Regions from separate parts of the Homo sapiens genome. Here all the other regions are linked to region 3. The links come from fine-mapping of genetic effects on gene expression. Tissue or cell type: whole blood. Region 3 holds a variant in brackets; each other region holds the start of a gene. All regions are shown on one strand. Distances are between the middles of the regions.

What was found. PIP is the estimated chance that this variant, and not a neighbour inherited with it, causes the effect.
Region 1: LINC01093 starts here. The variant in region 3 is fine-mapped to the expression of LINC01093 in whole blood (TOPMed, PIP above 0.99).
Region 2: it holds the start of ACSL1, and the variant in region 3 is fine-mapped to the expression of ACSL1 in whole blood (TOPMed, PIP above 0.99).

Annotation. Positions count from the first base shown.
Region 1 is chr4:184,895,415-184,903,519 of GRCh38, reverse strand. LINC01093 (long intergenic non-protein coding RNA 1093) reads left to right here and starts at 4,059. Exons shown (of 2, transcript NR_039977.1): 1 at 4,059-4,213. RefSeq lists an enhancer at 6,112-6,401.
Region 2 is chr4:184,820,910-184,829,014 of GRCh38, reverse strand. ACSL1 (acyl-CoA synthetase long chain family member 1) reads left to right here and starts at 3,047. Exons shown (of 21, transcript NM_001995.5): 1 at 3,047-3,099. LOC105377587 (a long non-coding RNA gene) reads right to left here and starts at 2,844. Exons shown (of 3, transcript XR_939564.4): 1 at 2,044-2,844. RefSeq lists enhancers at 1,869-2,148, 2,319-2,368, 1,975-2,478, 3,729-3,798 and a silencer at 2,599-3,558.
Region 3 is chr4:184,586,097-184,594,201 of GRCh38, reverse strand. All of the region lies in intron 1 of LINC02365 (long intergenic non-protein coding RNA 2365), which reads left to right. Among named protein-coding and RNA genes, the nearest start is that of LINC02365, 35 kb to the left of the region's middle. RefSeq lists a silencer at 4,653-4,947. The variant C/T (reference allele first, on the strand shown) is at 4,520.

The DNA of each region.
Region 1 (8,105 bases), 310 kb before region 3:
GCTATAGCTCCTTCCAAATTCTGATGAAAATAGCGATGAAGACAAAAAGAGAATGCTGTCTGACAAGTTGCAGGTGAGAAAAACTGAGTGCAGCAAAGTCCCCAGCGGAGCCGCTGAGGGATTGTGCAGACAAGAGATGCTGTTCTTCACACTCCTGGATTGGTATCCACGGTCCTGCCTCTGCTGGGGCCGTGAGCAAGCGTGGGACGGTGAGCATTGCCAGGAGCATCTGCGGTGCTTTCTGCAACTTCTCTCCCACCTTGCCTCCTTGCGCTGAGGCTCTCTGGCACTTTCAGAGACCAGCAGCTGCTGAAATGTCCTGTTCTAAGAGGACCTGTTCACAAGTGGCTGTGTAGGCCGATGCCAGAGGTGGTGATAGTTGACAAAGTTCTAGACTCAGCCCTGCCACTACCACTCAGTGATTTTAGGGAACTGCAGGCCTTGCCATGCCTCCGTTTTCTCAACAGCCAAATGAGGATAACAATACCTGTTCTTCCTTCGTATGAAACAACTATGAAAGACAAATGTGACAATGGCAACGGCATCACTTGATGGTTACAAGTGTTGCCTATTTTCCAAAACCCATTATTACATCCTCTGGTAACAGAAGTGGAGAATTATGAATAGCGATTTATTCATTGTAAGTTAAAAAATGTCTCATACTCTTTTCTTTCTTCTAACAGATGATTCATACCTCACCTCTATCACTACCTATCTTCATGTTTCTCTTTCTGGTATGAGGTCTTGTGCATTAGCCTAATAGTTATCTAATTCCTGGGCCAAAGATCTAAGGTTGGAGGTCAGTGGAACAAATTCAGCTTGCCAACAAAATTGGTTTCAACTCACATGGTGTGGCTGTTATGTTTCAAAACTTGAACTAGCAGAAAACAAAAATTCAGATTTCCAGCTTCGTTCAAAATTTCAAAAATCTGGTTCCACTCCTATATGGCAAGAGTTAGCTGGTGTAGAATGGCAGCTACCCCCTTTAGGTAGGGCACATGAGCTTGAGTTTTCCGCAGTCACCATCATTCCCTATTGCAGCCCTCTCACTGATGCCAAGTGTTCATTGTAGTTTCTCATCTATACTTGCAAATCCATTCTGTTCTTTTAAATTGCCTGACCTCCCCCTGCCCCAGAGTCTTTTAAATCTGTCATCTCCTATTTTTAAAAGTGTCAGATTCATGTACTGGCCAGTGAACCCAAAAGCCTATGTTCTTAGGTGGCACTAAGAACGGGTGGTACCCCAGTGCTCTTTACTGTTTGAGTTGGCTCAGGAACTAGGATTTGTAGGCCCGAAGGACTAATCGGTCTTTAAGACTCAGCTCTGAGATCTCCTCAGATATCCTGGTTGTATAACACAATATACATGTTGGTTGTGTCTATGAGTTGACAGGGCTCTAAAGCATTCATCACACGAATGTCTTTGAGGCCAATGCTGTCCTAGGAGTTTCTCGAATCTTGCTTGGTTTCCTTGTCTGTATCACCACTGATCATAATGAATGCCCTCGTCTTACCCCTGGAAAATTGCATCAGTGGTTTTGGTCTTTTTGTCTCATCTCTTTCTTCTCCAGTCCACTACTTTACTGGAACCAAAGTTAATCTTCCTGGGTTCCAGTAAAATATAATCTGCTCTCTCCTTCATTTATAAACCCCAAATCATTCCTAAAGAATGAAGTCCAAGGTCCCTATGAAAGACCGTCCTCCATCTAACCCTAAACCACTGCTCTGTCCCATCTTCCTCATACCCTGGCTTCCTCCCAGTTCTCCACATGCACCATGGCCTGCCCAGCGGGGCAGCCTGCACCATCCAGCACCTTAGTTTAGAGTGTGCTACGGTAGCCCTCAGACCTCTGCATTTCAAAGGTCAGTACCTTTTTTAAAAAATGTGGGAAACGTGATGTTTTTATTAGGCTAAGTAAGAGAGAATGTAAATGATAACATAGATGGTATCATCTATATTCAGCTTGATTTCATAAGAGAAAGAAAAACAGCAACCCTCCAAAAGTAGAAAGTACATCATCCGAAACCTAAGTTCCTTTCAATTGGATAAATTTAGCTTTTTGAAAAGCTTCCTACCTGGTCTTTATTTTTCTCATGTCCTTTCAGACCAGTGAAAACGTAACCACTGGCATCTGTCCTGGGCTTGCTTTTGAGACACACGAACCTATCCATCTTTTTCATTCTAGAAAATTCTCACCCATCCTTCAAGATCAGTTCTTGAGTGAAGTATTTGCTGACTCCTGAGGCAGAGGTAGTCGCTATCCCTTTGTGTATCTCCTTGTTACGACAAAACATATATCGATTTTTGATGGTGATTTCTTGGTCACATGGAACATGGAATCACTAAAGCCCCTTCAAAATCCTCTTAAGCTGGCCGGGCAGAGGGGTTCACACCTGGAATCCCAGCACTTTGGGAGGCCGAGGCCATGGATCACTGGAGGTTAGGAGTTCAAGACCAGCCTGACCAACATGGTGAAACCCCCGTCTCTACTAAAAATACAAAAATTAGTTGGGCATGATGGCAGTTGCCTGTAATCCCAGCTACTTGGGAGGCTGAGGCAGGAGAATCGCTTGACCCCAGGAGGTGGAGGTTGCAGAAAGCTGAGATTGCACCACTGCACTCCAGCCTGGGTGACAGAGCCAGACTCTGTCTCAAAAAAAAAAAAAAAAAAAAAATCCTCGGGCGGTGGGCAGTGGCTCGTGCCTGTAATCCCAGCACTTTGGAAGGCCGAGGAGGGCAGATCACCTGAGGTCAGGAGTTCGAGACCAGCCTGACCAACATGGTGAAACCCCATCTCTACTAAAAATACAAAAATTAGCCAGGCATGGTGGCACGTGCCTGTAATCCCAGCCACTCAGGAGGCTGAGGCAGGAAAATGGCTTGAACCTGGGAGGCAGAGGTTGCAGTGAGCCGAGATTGCACCACTGCACTCCAGCCTGGGCGACAGAGTGAAACCCCATCTCAAAAAATAAAAAAATCCTCTTAAATAGCCTCTCTTCTCCCACATTTCCATTCCCTATGGCAGCTGCTCTTCCCTCTATTTCTCTTTAAAAAACATCTTTGGGCCAGGCACAGTGGCTCATGCCTGTAATTCCAGCACTTTGGGAGGCTGAAGTAGGTGAATCACTTGACCCCAGTAGGAGGAGTTTGTAGTGAGCCGAGATTGCACCACTACACTCTAGCCTGGGCAACAGAGCAAGATCCGTCTCAAAACAAAAACAAAAACAAAAAAAGCAAAACGTCTTCAGCCCTTCTGGGCACACTTCTACGTCCCCGCTACCCAAAACTGCACTGGTGCACTGGAAGAGAGTTCAGTGAAAGCTACATCTGTCCTCAGCCCAAACGATAAGCCACGGTGCCTGAGCCATGCCCTCATCCAGCATGACAGTGAGCTTTCTAGCCGAAGTCTGTGGTCCCAAGTCAACGATGAGGGACTCATAGCAGAAAGATCTGAGGCCTTGCACATACGCACGTTTTAAAAACAATGAAACAATGAATAAAAGTTCTGTAGTGACGGCCAGTAGTGACAGTCCATGAGGGGACATCCTGGTACTTTCCCCTGTTTCATACTTTTCCTGTTACTATAACCATAGTCTCTACCTTCTCTAGAAAGATGACTAAAACATGTTTAGGACACCTGGGCAGCTGTACTGAGATACCAGCATGTGGCAATCCAGCCATTATGGGAGCTGCACTACTAAAGCACAGGTGCGTCCTGCCCATTCTTAAGCCCAATTAGGAGGCAGGGGTCTTTGATGGTGGAACAGAGTGGACCCTGCTGTGCATGATGTACCCAGGCTGTGTCAACTGCATTTGTGGCTTGTCCCATGACCCTTTGGCCCATGCTGCTGTGAGGGTGGCTGTTGGTCAGGGTTGAGAGGCCAGAGAGGAGTGGGCAGGCAGCTTCAGGCCCCACGTTGGTGTTGGCCTGGGCACCTGTTGGATCAACACAATAACTGTACCCTGGAGTTCCTGGAAGCTGCCTTCTGCTCAGCCAGGCCTGCTTGTGGGCGGAGCCCATGCCAGCTACATGTGTCAAGGAAGCCACAGCTTGGCTAGTGAGCAATGCAATTCTGGGAATGTTCAGGCTCTCTCTGTTCTTTCCTCTCTTGCAAACCATGGGCACCCTTGGGTCCCTTGGGGTCACTATGTTACACCTGCTTTTTATCTGTCTGGGCAAGAGCTGCTCAAGCCACACCTTGTGACACTGAGGTAAGAGCAGAACGTTGCAGAGTGTGCAGGCTGGAGTGTGTGCTAAGGCTCTGTGTGCTGATTACTCCTTGTGTGTCTCATTGCTTACAGGATTTTTTTTTTTGAGACAGGGTCTCACTGTGTCACCCAGGCTGGAGTGCAGTGGTGTGAACATAGCTCACTGCAGCCTCGGACTCCTGACCTCAAGCAATCCTCCCGCCTTAGCCTTCCAGGTGCTTGAGATGAGAAACAGACTTTTTTTCCTTTGAGAATTCATTATTTCTCCCCTTGGGCTGTTTGTTCAAACCCACACAGGAGCAGGAACATTGCTTTCGATTGCCAAAGAAATGACATAATGATGCCAATGATTAAAATGTCAAGAACACAGTGTCTTGGGCTGAGATGGTAAAGGCAGCATTCAGGCAGTGATGATCTGGGGTGATAGGAGTGGCTGTGGGGAGACGGAGGCCTCCCTTCTTGTAGGATGGGACTCGGTCTTTCCTCTGCCTCATTGCTATTATTGTCTTGTTTTATTTTTGCTTTTGTTTGTTTGGGTAGGTGAAAAGGCAGGTCGGGTGAAGAAGAGCAGGATGTTTCATTTTTATCAAGCATCACCTGATTCAAAATGTAGCCACTGAAAAGAAGCCATCGTTTTTGGCCTGCGTCTCTGAGGATAAGATAGTGCGTGGGTGATGGATGCAGCCCAGGTGGGAGCTGTCTGCAAATAACCCAGCTGCTTCCTGTGGCCCTGGTCATCCTGCTGCCCTCAGCTTCTCCCACGGAGGCCACCTGCCCCCCTAACACTGAGCTGCTCACCTAGTCCAGCCACCAGCGACGGCCCCTGGCCTTTGACGTGTCTGTTCTCTCCTCTCTCACTCCACCACCACTAGCTTCCAGGGATCTCCAGCCTGTATAGAAACTTCTCACTACGCTCTGCTCTCGCCCTTTTAGCAGTCTCCTTATGCTGCTGACTCCACCTCCCAGGCAAATCATTCTAATTTAATTCTTTACAAGTATTCTCCCTCCTGGAGTGCTGGGCTCCACCACGGGGGCAATCAAGGCACATCACCCACAGCTTTCCAGACACCCACAGCCTTCCTGTCCTGCTGTGAGCGTGGCTCCTTCAGCCTTCTTCCTTCTTCGCCTGTGGGGAGTCAGACATTCGCCAACCTCGTGCTCAATCCCTGCCTCTGTCCAGGCCTGCTAAGCCCATAAGACATATCTGCATGTGTCAGAATATGTGCAAGCTTTCGACAGGATCCCCGTTTCTCCCCATGGAGCTTTTGGCAAATGAAGGGTGTGGTTCAGCAGCTGGTCTGATGTCCCTTAAGCTCCCCCACACCAGCACACCAGGACTGTCTCTGTCTCCACATTCCAGCATATCTGGGTCTCAGCTTTGACACAATCAGACACTGTTGCTGAAGTTTTTATGTTTATATGACAGAAGAAACTGTCACCCCTCCCCTGCCCCCCGCCCCCACCCACCTGTTATAAGAAAGAGCTCCAAGGTCTTGAGACCACACGCAGGGGATGGGAAAGCTGACATTAAAGGGGAATGAGGTCTTTCTGTGATTCCAGCAGCCTCAGGAGGACAACGTCAGAAACCAAAAGCTCCTCTGCCCAGGGATGGGGACCCGCCGACTTCAAGGGCAGAACAGGTGCCTGGCTAGTGGGGGAGTTCCCCAATGTGGATTTAAACTGTAGTGTCTTCAGAGAACATAACCAACATTTGTCTTTAGGAGATGTGTTTGTTTGAGTAGATCAGCTATGAAAATACCCAGCCGGCCTGCAGCCCTCCCGGCAGATGCTGAAAAGGAAACCCGACTGGGAGATGCCGCCCACCCTTATCCCCAGAGAGCTGCGTTGTTTCCTCTTGCCTTGGCCTTTGGATCCGGCCATAGCAAGCATCCCTGGGCACCTGGCTGAAGCTGGAAACTCGGGATAAGAATGGAAGCCCTGGAAGGGAAGAAGAACCGAGGAGTGAGCTTGCCCTGTGAGGAGGGGTGGAGCTCTTCAGAGGTTGGGGGTGAACTTACGAGACACCTGAGGAAATGGAGGCTGTGCTGGAATAGGGGAGCCTGGATGAAAATCAGAGAATGAGAAGGCTGGGTTCAGAAGGGTGGGAAAGTCCCCGGGCGTCCCCCTCGAGGGGGATGAGGTCATCCAAGGCCACGAGGAGGACCAAGCCTTTAGGCAGAACCTTAGTATTTACCCTCCTGTGTTGTAATTCTGCCTCATTGTGGCTTTCTAAAATTGCGGAAAGATGTACATAAGAGTTACCATTTTAGCCATTTTCAAGTATACAATTCAGTGGCAGTAAGCACATTCACGATGTTGTGCAACCATTACCCCACTGATTTCCAGAACATTTCATCATTCCAAACACAAACTCCGTACCCATTAAGCAATATTCCCCTTTCCCCCAACCCCTGCAGCCCCTGGCGACCTCTGCTCTACTTTTTCTCTTTGAATTTGACTACTCTAGGTATCTCAGATACTCAGGTAAAGGGAATCATATAATGTTTTTCCTTTTGTATTTGGCTTATTTCACTTAGCATGTTTTCAAGGTTCATTCACGGTGTAGAATATATCCAAATGGCATTCCTTTTAAAGGCTGAATAGTATTCCATTTTATGTAGATGCTACCTGACAGTCAATGAATGGGCTCGCTGCCATATGTGCATAGAAACCCATACTGTGGCTTTTTTTTTTTTTTTTTTTTGGAGTCAGTGTCTTGCTCTGTCGCTCAGGCTGGAGTGCAGTGGCATGATCTCGGCTCATTGCAACCTCCACCTCACAGGGTTTAAGCGATTCTCATGCCTCAGCCTCTCAAGTAGCTGGGACTACAGAGGCACACCATCATGCCTGGGTAATTTTTATATTTTTAGTAGAGACGGGGTTTCGCCATGTTGGCCAGGCTGGTCTCACACTCTGACCTCAGGTGATCCACCCACCTCAGCCTCCCAAAGTGCTGGGATTACAGGCCTGAGCCACCACACCTGGCCTGATTTACAGTATTTGAAATCAAATCCGTCCTCAGCGTTTCTCCAAGGGGATCAGAGCAGGGCACTCAGCAACATGCTTCCTTTAGGTGTGTTGCAGAAGCTTAGCTACTGACATGACGCTCTCTCCTGTTGCATTTAAAACTGGAAACAACTGAAATGGTCAGCAACATGAGACGGCTGGGGAAATCATGGTCCATTTCTATCAGCCTTCACCAATAATGTCCTTCAAGATTTTTCAGTGAGATGGTCAAAGATCTCATGATATAAAATTGAATACAAAAAAAGCAGATGACAAAAGACATATACAATGTTATACATTTGTAATACATCTTAATACATCTCTTTCCTACACACACACACACACACACACACACACACACACACACACATATATATATATATATATACATGCAGGAAATGATAGTGCATTGTGGTGAGATATATGTATATATATAAAAGCAGGAAAGAGATGTGTGAAGTATAGTTTGTCTCTGGAAGATGGGGTGAGGAATAGTTTTTATCTTTTCTACATTTTTCATAATTTTTTTACAGTAAGCATACATTATTTGCATAATCAGAAAAAAAGCACTATACATGTGGAAATGGCAGGTATGCATGCATACATCCAGCACTATTCCATCTGGCCAGAGAATCCTGTGTCATCTCCTCACATTCATCTCTGGGTGGTCACCCATGTCAGGACCGTGACTGGCCCATGAAAGAGCCAAAAAGAATCCTCAGAAAATATCTACTCACTAAATTCTCTGCATGACCTAGTCTCAGGAAGGAAAGGGTGGAATCTTGTTACCATATTAGCAAGAGTGGCTGTGCACATGCTTTCAGGGAAGAACTTCCCTATTATGACACTATTTTTAAAAACAGGCTTTCCCGTGCTTAATCTGTTTTGT
Region 2 (8,105 bases), 230 kb before region 3:
AAGTCAGGAGATCGAGACCATCCTGGCTAACACAATGAAACCCCATCTCTACTAAAAATACAAAAAACTAGCCGGGTGTGGTGGTGGGTGCCTGTGGTCCCAGCTACTTGGGAGGCTGAGGCAGGAAAATGGCATGAACCCAGGAGGTAGAGATTGCAGTGAGCCGAGATCGCACCACTGCACCCCAGCCTGGGCAACAGAGTGAGACTCCGTCTCAAAAAAAGAGACTGGTTTCTTACCTAAGTCACAAACTCCCAACTATAGAGTCTGGAATCTTCATTTAATGAGAACGCCAAGGGCGTGGCTGTCAATCCTATGACACCTGTCTGAGGTAGGTATTATTCCTGATTTAAGGAGGATGCAATGAGGCTTGATGTGGATTCACCCACCCCAAAGCCTGTGTTCTTAACCACTATGCAATACTGCCTCCCATCAAAGTCTCTATCTCAAGTCCACAAGACAACCCCATACATTGTAAAACTTTTTGGAGTGATTAGATAAAAACTTTTTTGTTTTTTTTTAAGTGTGTGTGCTGAAAGAGACCTAAGAGATTATTTAGCCAAGCCCCCTTATAGCCTGAGGAGAAATCTAGGTTCTAAGGAATGAAGTTGCTTCCCAATGTCACCTAGAAGTTCCTGCCAGAAGGAGTGTGAACTCAGGTCTGATACTGGGTTGTGTGCCTTTCCCAGCCTTGAGTTGGAAATCACCTCATTAAGGGCTAGAGCCCAGGGAGAGGCACCCAGTTTAAAAGAAAAGTGTCTTGAGGAGAAGACGTAAGGTGAGACAGCCAGTGACGACCATCCACATGTTACGGGTTGAATTGTCACCCCCACATTCCCCAAGTTCATATGTTCAGGGGTTTGTTGTTGTTGTTGTTGTTGTTTTGAGACAGAGTCTTGCTCTGTCTCCCAGGCTGGAATGCAGTGGCGTGATCTTGGCTCATTGCAACCTCCACCTCCCTGGGTTCAAACAATTCTTCTGCCTCAGCCTCCCGAGTAGCTGGGACTACAGGTACGCACCACCATGCCCCGCTAATTTTTTTATTTTTAGTAGAGACAGGGTTTCACCATGTTGGCCAGGCTGGTCTTGAACTCCTGACCTCAGTTGATCTGCCTGCCTCGGCCTCCCAAAGTGCTGGGATTACAGGCATGAACCACCGTGCCTGGGCATTCAGGTATCTTAGAATGGGACCTTACTTGGACATTACCTCATGATTACAGAGGTCATCAAGTTAAAATGAGGCAATTCGGGTGGGCCCTAGTCCAGTATGACTGGTGTCCTTATAGAAAGAAGGGATTTGCACACACACACCACAGGGAAGATGGTGTGAGGAGACATAGGGAGAAGATGGGCATCTGCAAGTCAGAGTGGCCGGGCACACATGCTCTTTCATGGGCCTCGGAAGCAGCCAGCCCTCCCACGCCGTGATTTTGTACTTCTAGTCTCCAGAACCAGGACAGACCATACATTTCGGTTGTTGAAGCCACTTAGTGTGTGGTACTTCGTTCCAGCAGCCCTTGAAAACAATAGACCACAGAACTTGGGAGGTGCCTGCAGAGGTTCTGGGGCTGAGGGACCGGTTGGAGAAGAGGAAAAAGGAGAGGCAAAGATGACAAAATCACGGATGGGGAGGCGAGATCTGGACAGAAAAACCAGGGATTAGCCAAGCGGGAACCAGTGAAAACGAACGTGGAGTCCATTTTTTCTAGATCTGGAAGATGGAGATCTAAAAGGACTGAGCTGCTAGAGAGGTTGCTGGTGTGTGCGTTGTCCTCACCCCACTGCACCACTGCGCCCAGCACACTGTGGGAGACACCCAGGGAAAGTCCTTCAGTTATTTGTGGGAGTGAACTGCAGTGTGGCTGAGGCCTGGAGCGAACCACGGTCAGTTTCCCCTGCCTGCAGCCCAGGCATAGCCCTGCGTTGGTTGTGCCCACACTCTGGGGGCAGCCTGAGTGCCAAGTGTGGTACTGCTCTCACTAGCATTTAACCTCTGTGCCCCAGCTTCCTCTTCTGTGAAAGGACAGTAATGACAGTACCTACCTCACTGGGTTATGAAGATTAAATAGAATAATGTGTACGCAGTGTTTGTAGCAATGCCTGGCATCAAGCACTGGGTAAACAGTATCTATTATTATCAAAGGCCTTTACGACAACAATCATTCTTCAAACGGCCCTCCAGCGAACGCTGGGCGCAAACTCCACGGTAACGGGGACCAATGTTGTTAGAGGTTGAGGTTCCTGGTAGGTCCCAGGTGCTAAAAGGAAGAGCAGCCTTTGGGATGTGAGCCCGAAAACCATCGTGTTGGCTTCTGAAGCCCCAAGATGGGCATGGCAGGGACGCGGAAGCCCTCAGAACCGCGGAAGCCCTCAGAACCGCACAGCAGGTGGCCGCCGTGGTGCAGCGCGCAGTCGGCCCTCAGCTCCCCTGCACCGGCGCGAGCTGCGGGCGCTGCCCACGTCAGGCTCTGCAGACACCAGACAGAAAAGGTCTTCCGGCCAGGGAGCGTGGGGGAAACCCTGTGGGGCCGCGCCCGTCAGTGTCAAGGAAAAACGGAGAGGAAGGCCCTTGCCTCCAGGGCCCTCGCAGCAGAATTCTGCCCGGCCTGCCAGGAGGCCAGCGGGGCACGGGCTGAGGGTGCAGGATCCGGAGGGCGCCGCCCGCCCCTCGGGCATCGCGGGGCCCAGGGTCCGCGGGGCCTCTGAGCTGAGGCGGTCCAATGTACCCTTTGTCCTTCCTCAGATTCATTATGAAATCCGAGGCAGTCTGGGCGACTCCAGCGGCGTTCGCCCGCCGCAGCCTCTCGACCGCCGGCCACCCGCCAGCCACGCGCGCCCAGACAGGAGGGCGGCCGGGCGCTCGGCGGGGCGGGGCCTGCCGGGGGCGGGGCCTGCGGGCGGGGCGGGGCCGCGGGAGGGCGGGGCCGGCGCGGCGAGCGCACCAGCAGCATCCTGGCTCAGCCGCGGCGGTGGCGGGGGCGCAACCAGCGGGCCGAGGCGGCGGCGCCAGCGGCGCCTTAAATAGCATCCAGAGCCGGCGCGGGGCAGGGAGTGGGCTGCAGTGACAGCCGGCGGCGGAGCGGCCGGTCCACGGAGGAGGTGAGTGCGCCCGCCGTGCGGAGCCGCGCCTGCTCCCGCGGCGGTGCCCGGGCCCCGGCCGAGGCGCCGGCTGACGTTGCCCTTCAGGGCCGAGCCCGGAGCAGCGGCCGCCGCGGAGGCGCGTGAGCCACCCCAGGCTCGTGGGGCCGCGCCGCCTTTCCGGCCTCCTGCCCGCGGCCCCGCTTCCCTCGGCAGCCGGAGGCCTCCGGGGTGCCCGTGCTGCCGCAGCTTCCTGTGTCTGAGTCGCGGGCGGCGCGGGCGCGGGGCTGGTGCGCGGCCGGGGATGCGCGCGGGACCGACCCTTGTGTGTGCGGCGGCGGGGACCGGCCCGGCGAAGCAGCCGGAGGCCGCGCTTCGGCTGGGAGGAGGTGGCCCAGCTGGGCCGCTGACGTTGCCCTCGTCCGCGGCCCCCGCCTGCCCAGAGGCCGGGCTCGCGGGCGTTCGGACCGCGCGTGGGGCGAGACTGCACTCGCGCCCGCTGAGATGCCGGCCCCACGCAGCGCGGCGGCACGAGGCCCACAGGCAGCTCAGAGGCCGCTGCCAGAGGCAGACATTCTCTCGGTGACTCCAGAGGAGTGCCCGTGGCCCTTGCACTTGGCCGTGGAGTCATTGATCTAAGGAGTGCTGGCATTTTTTGAAATTGAGAAGCAAAGATGATGTCTGTCACCTGGCAGCGTAGACGGAGAGTGGCGGTAGATGACTTGAATGGACACGTGGATTCGAGTCTGGGGACAGGCGTTCCCCCAGTCGGTGCGTTGTGAGAGTGTGGAAACCCCTTCCCCACTCAGTCCAATTTCAAGGTTATGGAGCATAATTAAGAGTGACCATTCTAAAAGCGTTCTCTAGTGCCCTGGCTAAGACTTTTAAGCTTCTTGGTGCAGGAGTGTCTAAAGTCCCGCGACTCTCACTGCCCTGTCTTTTATTTTCTTGACCTTTGATTAGCGTTGAGAGAAACTGGTTAAATCTTGCAGTTTCTGCCACCCATTTCACAACTTAACCTGTGATTGTCCCAAAGAAAACAATTATTGGCTTCTTGCTAGCAAAAAAATCAAAGGCTTCCGGTTGATTGTTTCTTTCTTTTTTTTCTTTTTTCAAGTGGACGTGGAAGGTTAGGCTGGCTAAAACTTAAAGTTTGAGTTGTAGGTCTGTGCTGGGTAGGCTTGAGAAGATGGAGCTTTTTAAGGAACCATTGCTCGCCATCAGATTGGAGCCAGACAGTGCAGTGTGATATAGTGGAAAAGGACCAGGTCTTGGGAGACTTACTTTCTTGTTCTGACTCAACTCGGAAAACACCTCCCTAGTCTGAGGCCCCCCTCCTTATATTTGTGAACAAACTGCATTAGACTAAAATCTTTCACGAGTCCAAATTCTGCGACTAGAAAAATAAACTTGTTAGCCGCACACCTTATACCTCTCCCCTTTAAAACAGACATATTAAAGACTTCTGTTTTCTGAATTTACTGTAAACAGAATACTTAAAAAAAAATTACCCAGACAGGCGTGGTGGCTCACTGTAATCCCAGCACTTTGGGAGACCGAGGCGGGCAGATCATTTGAGGTCAGGAGTTCGAGACCAGCCTGACCAACATGGAGAAACCCTATCTCTACTAAAAATACAAATAATTAGCCAGGCGTGGTGGCATGCATCTCTAGTCCCAGCTACTCGAGAGGCTGAGCCAGGAGAATCGCTTGAACTCAGGAGGCAGAAGTTGTGATGAGCTGAGATCCCGCCACTGCACTCCAGACTGGGCAACAGAGCAGGACTCTGTAAAAAACAAAACAAAACAAAAAATTACCCTTCCCCACAATTATAAGCATTTTGGCATATTTCCTTCCTGTCTCTGTTGTTCCTATTTTGGCAGTATTTTTATTGTTATCGCAGGCAGCCTGACTGAAAAGAAATCTGGGCTTCTAAGTTTTTGGTATTTAGGAGGTAGATACAAGTGACCCATGCATGTAGGGTTAGGTATCTATTTATACCATGCAGGTAGAGTTTTCATAGCCACCTCTACTTTTGGGTGAAGTTTAGGCTAACTGAAAGTGTACCAGCATGCATGGTGTATGCAGAAAAATGAACGTAATTCAGATTATGTGATAGTTTTCTCTTGTTGCCATTATATATAACCCAGGGCTTACCACAAACTGAAATTTCTTATGCATTGACATTTAGCATTTGATGTAAAATGACTATCTCAGAGTTGCTGCCACAAACACTGGTAAAACTGTCCCTACTTTCTAGCATGCTTAATGTCTAGGTCTTGCTACATCTTTTTTGATGTAACTGTTTTGTGGAAAATGGTTGTGTGTTTGGGGAGGCTTTTGAGAAAAGATAAGGTTGTCTTGTCATTATAACTGGGTATTTCTCCTCTCTCCCTTCCAGTTTCACTTGTCTGGAAATAGCAAGACTATAGGAGTAGTAATTTCTAGATATTTATAGTCAGTAACCTTAGAGGAATGTTTAGTTTTTAAGATCAATTGAATTTATTGTGTAAGTTTGCCATTTAAAACAGGTGCCCATTTGTGTTTACTGTCTCTTGTAACCAAACTCTGTTCAATTAGAATCCATTAGTAATGTTTTGTGGAGAGTCTTGTTTGGATGATGCAGTGCATGAGGCTCCTGTACTACAAAATAGAAAAGAAGTTCCTCTAAGGCAGCTCAAAGCTGTTGATATCCTGAAGCCTTTTTAGGCCTCCCTCTCTGACAGGCGGTGATCTGACAGGAGGTAGATAAAGGTGCCGGAGTTTTTAGTGAAGGTTGGCAGTCCAACTTGGTAGTCAGACAAACACATGATGGTCAAAAGTGCCTTTGACACTGGGGCCTGGAGAAGAATTCTCAGTGGCCAGAGCTGATCTGAAGCTGCAGGCAGTTGAGTTTGAGTTTCAACATGTTGGTACTTCAAGGGGCTTCTGAAAAGTTTTAAAGGAGCACAAGCCCTGAAGGAGTAGCTGAACTTAGTGAACTGGAGAAGGCAGGGGCAGTTTTACCAGGGTTTGTGGCAGCGACTCTAAGATTGTCATTTTACATCAAATGCTGAATGTCAATGCATAAGAAATTTCAGTTTGTGGCAAGCCTTGGGTTGTATATAATGGCAAGAAGAGAAAACTATCACATAATCTGAGTTATGTTCATTTTCTACATCATGACATTTTCACTTTCTTTTTTTTTTCTTTTTTCCCAGATAAGGTCTCACTCTGTCGCCCAGGTTGGAGTACAGGCATGATCATGGCTCGTTGCAGCCTCTCCACCTCCCTGGGCTCAGTTGATCCTCCCACTTCAGCCTCTCCAGTAGCTTAGACTACAGGCGCACATCACTATGCCCAGCTAATTTTTGTATTTTTTTCGTAGTGAAGCGGTTTTGCCATATTGCCCAGTTGTCTCGAACTCCTGGGCTCAAGCGATTTGCCCTCCTTGGCCTCCCCAAAGTGCTAGGATTACAGGCGTGAGCCACTGCACCCAGCCCACTTTCATGTTCTTGACTGTGTTAGAAACAACACAGTATTGATTCACTTATGACCTTTGAGGAATCAAGAGGGGCGGGTGAAATATTGGAGACTCCTTGAAGTGTGGCTGGCTTGGAGGGTGTCACCCTTGGACAAAAACTTAAGTGGAGGTGAGTAAGGGCCCTGCTCCCCTGTGCTGCCTGCCTTAGAAGGATGTGATCATCTGGAGGCAAATAGCTTGTTGCTTGAGGCCAGGAGTTCAAGACCAGCCTGGGCAACAGAGCAAGACCCCATCTCTAGAAAAAAAAAAGTAAAAACAATAAAATAAAATCTCAAAACTGGTGGTTCCATATAGGTGCCTGGGCTGATTCTCTTTATGAATTATTTGCTGGTCTTCAAGTTTAAATAAAATTCTGAAAGCTGTCTAATATCTAAAAACCACTTGCCACAGAAAAGCTGTATTTGTTTTTCATATTTTAAGAGTCATACATACTTACTGGAGAAAATTTGGGAAATAGGAAAAATGAAGCTCTTCCAGAGATTAAATACTATTAACATTTTGTTATATTTCCTTCCAGTCTTTTTTCCCTATACAATAAACAAATTTTAAGCATACATTGTTAATTAAAGATTACAATTTTGACAATTTAACTTTATCACCTAAGTTATATTGTGGGCTTTTTTACACGTTGTTACATATTCTTCAAAAAATAAGTTCTGAAGATGACTGCATTATTTGCTGTATGGGCCATAATTTAGTTACTTCTCCCCATTTGTTGGATATTTTTCAGAACAGTTTACCAACCTTTGTTATATGTTTAAATACGTCTTTAAAAAATAAAAAATGTTCTGCTTTAAAACTCTTGAAATTAACAATAATTTGAAAAGTGTTTTTACTAATGAATAGGTTTAATGGACTTTTGGGTTCATGTATTCTAGTCAAAAGCAGTTGAAATAGGGATTTCATGGTTTGGAAAGAGAAATGGAAAGAAGTTAGGGCATCAGAGGAGGAAACGGGGCCTGCCTGTAGACCATTTCCTCATTCTGGAGGGGACTTCTGATAAATGTAGGCTCTATCCATTAGCACAGCTTTGGCTGCTATAGAAATGGGCACTTTCCCCTTAGGTTTGTTGTGGGAGAAATGTCCATATAAGAAGGACTGAAACACTCTGAATACTATTTATTCCTTTATTAAGCAGAGTCATGAGAAAGTGCTTCCGGAGCTAGTTTCTCCTTCAGGGTCCAGGTGTCTGCCACAAAGCAGGGCTGTGGTAGCTGACCGAGGTGGTAGCCACAGCCTGGACACGGCCAGGCTTAGGAACAGAGCAGTGATGAGAGCAGCAGACAGAGCCAGGTGCTGCTAAGCTTCTGATGGGTTAACTCATTAGTACCTTCAGCAACCCTGTAAGGTAGGTCCTGCTGCTATCCTTACTGTACACAAGATAAAGGAACAGGTGCAAAGATTAAGTTCCCCATACCAGAATTTGAACCTAGGCAGTCTGGCTTCAGGGTCTGTGCTCCTAATTGCTGGGCTCTACTGCCCCTCCAGAGCTAGAAGTTCTCAC
Region 3 (8,105 bases):
AAGGTTGGGAGTTCGAGACCAGCCTGACCAACCTGGAGAAACCCTGTCTCTACTAAAAATACCAAATTACCCGGGTGTGGTGGCGCATGCCTGTAATCCCAGCTACTTGGGAGGCTGAGGCAGGAGAATCACTTGAAACTGGGAGACAGAGGTTGCAGTGAGCCGAGATCGTGGCATTGCACTCCAGCCTAGGCAACAAGAGCAAAACTCCGTCTAAAAAAAAAAAAAAGTTATATGTGGATTTTTGACTGTGTGGGAGTCAGTGCCCCTAATCTCTGTGTTGTTCAAGGGTCAACTATAGGTTGGAGAGTCAACTATAGGTTGAAAATTGGCAGGTCCCTATTCTTTGATGCATATGCTGATTTGTTAATTAAATCTCCGAATTTCTTGGCAATAAATTTAAAACATCGTATTTTTGTACTTTTCTTCTTGATTTTCTATTCAATTCCATTCTTTACTTACTTATCTGTCACCTCAGGATTCAGAAAGTAAGGAAGCAACAGCTGCTGCAGCTGAGGGAGCTGAGCTGGGATCACCACATGGTGCTGGGCGTGGGTATCAGCAAAGGAACAGGAGCCAGAGTTCTAGCAAGGATAGTTTTGGCCACAAACATAGCTCTAGGCAAGGAGAAACTACACAGACACACAGCAGAGTTGGGTACGGGGATGCCGGGGTAGAGTATGGTGTGGCCTGGGACTCCGAAACAAAGTGGAGAGAAATAGGAAGCAGCATTGAAACCTGGAAAATTCATGGGCTTTGGAGTCAGCAAGGTCAGGCTGTGAATCCTGACTTCCTCCACTCATTCGCTACATGACCTTGGGCCTTTTAGTTAACCTCAGTTTTCTTCTAAAATGATTATCATGACTAACCTCATTTCCATCCTTGCAGAACAGTTGTGAAGATTAAATATGTGTATGAAGCACACAGTTTAGCACTTAACAGGCAATCAGTTCTGTCCTGCTTTAAGGCTCATTTACTTCTCGCGGGATCCTCCACGGTTTCCATCAGATCCTTAGAGCTCATGAGGGTTGGATTCCCTGCCCTCCTATGTGCTAGTGCTGTGAGATTAAGGTGCAAACAGGTGCTGCAGAGAGCTGGGGGAACGCCCGCACTGAAAAATCCTTGCTGTGTTTCATTTGCTAGTGATGGGTGATGATTTACCCCACACACTTAAAACAAATTTAGCCTCTGACAGCTTTTGGGGCCTGAAGCCCAGGCCTGGTTTAGCTGGATCCTCTGTTCAGAGTCTCACTGTGTCCAGAATTGGTGGGTTCTTGGTCTCACTGACTTCAAGAATGAAGCCGCAGACCCTCGCGGTGAGTGTTACAGCTCTCAGGGTGGCGCGTCTGGAGTTGTTCATTCCTTCTGATGTTCGGATGTGTTCGTGGTCTCACTGGCTCAGGAGTGAAGCTGCAGACCTTCGCGGTGAGTGTTACAGCTCATAAAAGCAGTGTGGAGCCAAAGAGTGCGCAGTAGCAAGATTTATTGCAAAAAGCGAAAGAACAAAGCTTCCACAGTGGGGAAGGAGACCCCAGCGAGTTGCCACTGCTGGCTCGGGCAGCCTGCGTTTATTCTCTTACCTGGCCCCACCCACATCCTGCTGATTGGTAGAGCCCAGTGGTCTGTTTTGATAGGGCGCTGATTGGTGCGTTTACAATCCCTGAGCTAGACACAAAGGTTCTCCACGTCCTCATCAGATTAGTTAGATACAGAGTGTGGACACAAAGGTTCTCCAAGGCCCCACCAGAGCAGCTAGATACAGAGTGTCGATTGGTGCATTCACAAACCCTGAGCTAGACACAGGGTGCTGATTGGTGTATTTACAATCCCTGAGCTAGACATAAAGGTTCTCCACGTCCCCACCAGACTCAGGAGCCCAGCTGGCTTCACCCAGTGGATCCCGCACCAGGGCCGCAGGTGGAGCTGCCTGCCAGTCCCGGTGCCCTGCTCCCGCACTCCTCAGCCCTTGGGTGGTCGATGGGACTGGGCGCTGTGGAGCAGGGGGCGGCTCTCGTCGGGGAGGCTCGGGCAGCACAGGAGCCCACGGAGTCGGGGGGAGGCTCAGGCATGGCGGGCTGCGGGTCCCGAGCCCTGCCCGGCGGGAAGGCAGCTAAGGCCCGGCGAGAAATTGAGCACGGCAGCTGCTGGCCCAGGTGCTAAGCCCCTCACTGCCCGGGGCCGGTGGGGCCGGCCGGCCGCTCCGAGTGTGGGGTCGGCCGAGTTCACGCCCACCTGGAACTCCAGCTGGCCCGCAAGCACTGCGCACAGCCCGGGTTCCCGCCCGCGCCTCTCCCTCCACACCTCCCCGCAAGCTGAGGGAGCCGGCTCCAGCCTTGGCCAGCCCAGAAACGGGCTCCCACAGTGCAGCGGTGGGCTGAAGGGCTCCTCAAGTGCCATCCAAGTGGGATCCCAGGCAGAGGAGGTGCCGAGAGCGAGAGAGGGCTGTGAGGACTGCCAGCACGCTGTCACCTCTCATCACCACCTAAAATCAAGGTACTGGCTGGGCTCTGTGTGTGTGTGTGTTGTAGAGAAGGAGTCTCACTATGTTGTCCAGGCTGGTCTTGAACTCCTGGCCTCAAGCAATCCTCTCACCTCTGCCTCCCAAACGCCTGTGAAATCAGCTCTTGATTCACTTGGAAATTCACCAGATGAATTTTCTTCTTGCCAGACTTAAATATTCTACAGGGGTGAGCCACTGTGCCTGGCCCTACAGGGGTGAGCCAATGTACCTGTGCCCTACAGGGGTGAGCCACTGTGCCTGGCCTTGGGACTGTGTTCTCATCTGGAGGTTTGACTCCAAAATAAACTGTTTCCAAGTTCATAAAGGTTATTGGCAGGATTCATTTCCTTGTAGCGTGGGACTGAAGTCCCTCTGTTCTTTTCTGGCTGTTGGACAGGACCCATCGTAGCATCTGCAGGTCACCCTCACCCTTGCCACCTGGCCCCACACAGGCAGTTCAAAATGAGGCAATTTGCTTCTCAAAGCTCAGCAGGAGGATCTTGCTCACGTCAAACACCTGCTTCCTTCCAGGAAGGCCTGGACTCTTTTAAAAAGCTCACCTGATCAGGTCAAGCTCACTTAGGATCGTTTCCTTTTTAAAAAATTAACTCAAAGTAAATTGATTAGAGACCTTAGTTACATCTGCAAAACCTCTTCATTTCTGCCATACAGCCTCTGCCCCAATCCTGGGAGTGAGATCCCATCATACTGACACGTCCTGCCCACTTGCAGGGGGATGCAAGCACACCAGGAATGCCCACCAGGGTGCAGGGATTTGGGGGCTACCTCCAAATTCCACCTCCCAGACCTGCTTAGCCATGCCCAGGTCCAAGAAGACTGGGGGCCACGCCTTAACAACGCGTGAGGAACGCTGGGAAGATGCCTGGGAATCGGCTCCTGATTCACTTGGAAATTCACCAGGTGAATTTTCTTCTTGCCAGATTTACATTTTCTACAAAATCCCGGCAGAAATAATAGATGTCACACGCTGTAAGAATATCGTCTTTCTGGGAAACATTATGCCCCGAGAAAGCATCTCACCCTCCCAGACCCCTGCCCTTCCGTTTTCCCGACAGAACATCTTAAGTGGTCGTGTGCAGCCAGAGGAACACGGGGCACAGGGCCTGAGATCTAATTTTGGAAATCCCCTCCATCTAAATATGGGGAAACTGAGGCCCAGAACGGACCAAGCTCATGCAGCCCCTGCTCTGGGTCTCTTGTAGTGCTGCCTTGACTGAGATTTCCGTGGGCTGGTTGGGCCTGGCTGTCAGAGGAGAGAAGTATCAACTCATTAGGATTCCTAGCAACTGGGCAGCAGCTAGAAAATGGGAAACAGACTAGCCAGTGTGGATGGCTGGGACATTTTCCATGTAACATTAAAATTCCTGAATGACTACAGCTGTGAAGAGACATTGGTGAGAATTGTTTTCAAATTACTTGAAGTTGAATTAATTGAGAATTTCTTTAGTATAAAATCTTTATTTTTTTTTTTTGAGACAGGGTGTCCCTCTGTCACCCAGGCTGGGGTCCAGTGATGCAATCACAGCTTACTGCAGCCTCAACCTCCCAGACTCAGGCGATCTTCCTGCCTCAGCCTCCTGAATAGCTGGAACTACAGGTGCATGCCACCACCCTTGGCTATTTTTTTTTTTTGAAACGGAATCTTGCTCTGTTGCCCAGGCTAGAGGGTAGTGGCATGATCTCAGTTCACTGCAACTTCTGCCTCCTGGGTTCAAGCAATTCTCCTGCCTCAGCTTCCTGAGTAGCTGGGGTTACAGGCACGCACCACCACGCCCAGCTAATTTTTGTATTTTTAGTAGAGACGGGGTTTCACCATGTTGGCCAGGCTGGTCTTGAACTCCTGACTTCAGGTGATCTGCCCACCTTGGCCTCCCAGAGTGCTGGGACCACAGGCATGAGCCACTGCACCCAGCCGCCTAGCTATTTTTTAAAAAGATTACTTGTAGAGATGGGGTCTCACTATGTTGCCCCGGCTGGTCTTGATCTCCCATGCTCAAG[C/T]GATCCTTCTGCCTCAGCCTTCCAAAATGCTAGGATTACAGGTATGAGCCACTGCACCTAGCTCCCTTTTTTCTCATTTGTAATAGAAAAATAAATTTTGTATTTGTATTAATAATGTCCATGAGGCGTGCCACATTTTGAAGGTAAGTAGCTTACAAAGCCTCTCAAGGTCTATTTGAATTAAAACGGCTACAAAATTATCTTGCTTGTTATTCTCTGTGCAGATGGCTGACATCAGATAGCTCTGCTTGTCTTCACTGCCCTCACCCCTCCAAATGATGTCTACATCTCTTTTAGGCTAAGCTTTTTAGTGAAACTTGATAGCATGAGTTTTCTCTTAGGGAAGACGCCCCCGTGATGACTGAGTAGGGTTAGACTTGAGAAAGAATTGTGGGATTCGAAACTGAGATTTTAAAAGTCAGATGGGAAGAGCGGCTCTTGGCGTGTGCAGGGTAGATCCCATAACCCGTCCTAGCCCAGGTCTCCAGTGCGTGGGAATAGAAAGAGTGAAACGGTGTTACTGTGCACTCATTTTAGTAAGTGGTGCCTTTGGCTGAGCTGAGCACTGGAACCATGCTGGCTTCAGAGGGATTCTCAGTGGTGCTGGGACCAGAGCCAGACCCCAAGGATATGAAGGCATCAGAATTCTCATGCGCTGTTGTTGGGAATGCAAAATTGGGCAGCCACTTGGGAATTCAGTTTGGTGGTTAAGTTAAACATGCACTTACTGAATGAGCCAGCCATTCTACTCCTAGCTATTCAAGAGAAATAAAAGTATATATCTACGAGACTTGAACATGAATGTTTAAAGCACCATATTCATAATAGCACAAAAAGAAAACAACACAAATGTCCACTCAGGGGAAAATGGACAAACGAATTGAGGTATAGTCATACAATGGAATAGCATTCACCAATCAAAAAGGACGAACTACTAATACACAGAATGTGGATGGATATCCGAACTATGCTGCTGAATGAAAGAGACCCAAGAGTACATACTCTATTATTTCATTTATTTAGAAGTTCATTTATATGAAGGCAAAAACCAAGCCAAAGCAAGAGAAATCAGATGAATGCTTGCCTGGGGCAGGGATTAGGAGTGTCTCAGCTATAACGAGGCACAGGGAGATTGGAGGGGTCAGGAAAGTGTCCTATATCTTGGTGGTGGTAATAGCTACACAGGTGTATACATTTGTTAAGACTCATGAAACTAATCTTAAATGAGTGCATTTTATTATATGTAAAGTATCCATTATTGTATGAATATCAAACCCCAATAACGTTGATTTTTAAAAATGAACCAGATACGGAGTTTCCACTGGAGAAAACCCTGACGTAGATCACTCTGTGTGTCTCTAGAGACAACTGAAACTGATGCCGTGTTTCTCACCTCCAGTGAAATTCCTATTTAATTGATACAAAAATACTACAAGGACCAAAATGGAGCATGTGCTTTTCTATTCTTCCTGCTGAGTGTAGCTAGAAAGCCTAGACATTGTTTATAAGACAAATATCAGAAGACTCTGAAAGTGGATGCAGCAAGGAAGGCTATGTAGGGACCTGGGAACCCAGGGCATGACACGGCAGTGAGTGAGCCACTGAGTTTTCTTTTTGTCTCACGTATCTTGGGTTGGACACTGGAGAAGCTGGCAACCCAGAAACACCAATGGGCATGGATTAAAAAAAGAAAAAAGCCAAAGAAAGCCTGCTATGTCTAGCTAAGGACCAGGAAACAGGCAGCCTGGCAAGATGGAAAACTTTTAGACAATAACCACGCTACTCCAGCCAAACACCACAAAAAAAACAAAAAACAAAAACAAAAAAACCCTTGGCTCCACTTCTGCCCTGTCAGCAAAGACACCCCCAAGCAACAGAGCTTGTTCTCCCTGAAGTGGGTACTGTTTTTTCTAAGAAAAATTAACATTTTTCAATTACACTGGCTATGCTTTGAGGTAATTCATGGCTAATGACAATAATAAAATAGTAACGGTGCCTTCTTCTGGGGGAGCTAATATATCCAAATTGTCCTTATAAGACTCCTTCTGTAACGACTATATTGCTAGCTCTCCAATCCAAGTCTTTGCTATTCCACATTCTCAGATTGGACCCTAGATTTAAAGAAAAAAATAACCAGTCTTCTCTGACAACCCCAAGTTCGGGGGGGGGATGGGAAATACTTAGTAAACTGTCAGGCTAACTTAGTATCCAAATTCTGTTTGGCACTACTTAGATGGTCATTTGGCAATGCCAAAGGGTTTACTTGCCCTTCTCACTAATTTAAGTTGTGGCCTGGCACACATGAACGAAGATGGGATTCTGAGAATAATTACGTGTGATTAAGAAGCTCCATCGTTTTTCTGGTGTGGCCCAACAGGACTGGGCCAGCTGCCCTATTTTTCAGATCCACAGAGCGAGAAAAATTTAAAGACAAAGAAGGCAGCTCATCCTTCTCCTTAAAGGAAATTTCTAGTTATTCAGATTTAACCTACTCAAATAAAAATGTTATTCTTACAAATGTATGCTTTAGTAATTGTATCTTTTCAGGATGAATAGAAGCAACTCATACACAAATATCTGTCAGTTAATGCTGTCAAAGACTATTCTGGGTTGGAAATACCTTGTCATTAAAAGTGAATAGGCCAGGAAAAAGAAAAGAAGGTAGAAAAAAAAAAAAAAAAGTGAATAGGCTGGGCGTGGTGGTGTAGGCCTGGAGGATCGCTGGAGACTCCAGAGACCCTGTGTCAGGAAGAAAAAAAAAAAAAAAAAAAAATGGTGTGGGGGAGTGCTCCTTGTAGGACAGTGTGAACAGGGTTATTTATTTATTTATTTATTTATTTATTTATTTATTTATTTTTGAGTCTGAGTTTCACTCTTGTCACCCAGGCTGGAGTGCAGTGGCGTGATCTTGGCTCACTGCAACCTCTGCCTCCCGGTCTCAAGTGATTCTCCTGCCTCAAGTGATTCTCCTGCCTCAGCCTGCCGAGTAGCTGTGATTACAAGTGTGTGCCTCCATGCCCGGCTAGTTTTTGTATTTTTAGTAGAGATGGGCTTTCACCACACTGGCCAGGCTGGTCACGAACTCCTGACCTCAGGTGATCCACCAGCCTCAGCCTCCCAAAGTGCTGGGATTACAGACGTGAGCCACCGTGCCTGGCCGTGAACAGGGTTTTTAAAGCCCTATAGCATCAACAATGCTTCCACTATCCACATCATCCAGGAAAATATCCAAATGGCATTTTGAGAAATAAACTTGCCACGATATGTCTTCAGATGAACCCTGCCCATAGCTCTCATGAATATGAAATTTACAGCTTTAAAGGTTAGCACTCTCGGCCAGGCGCAGTGGCTCACACTTGCAATTCCAGCACTGTGGGAGGCTGAGGTGGGCGGATCACGAGGTCAGGAGTTGGAGACCAGCCTGACCAACATGGTGAAACCCCATCTCTGCTAAAGATACAAAAAATTAGCTGGGCGTGGTGGTGCGCACCTGTAATCCCAGCTACTCAGGAGGCTGAGGCAGGAGAATTGCTTGAACCCAGGAGATGGAGGTTGCAGTGAGCCAAGATCGCACCACTGGACCCCA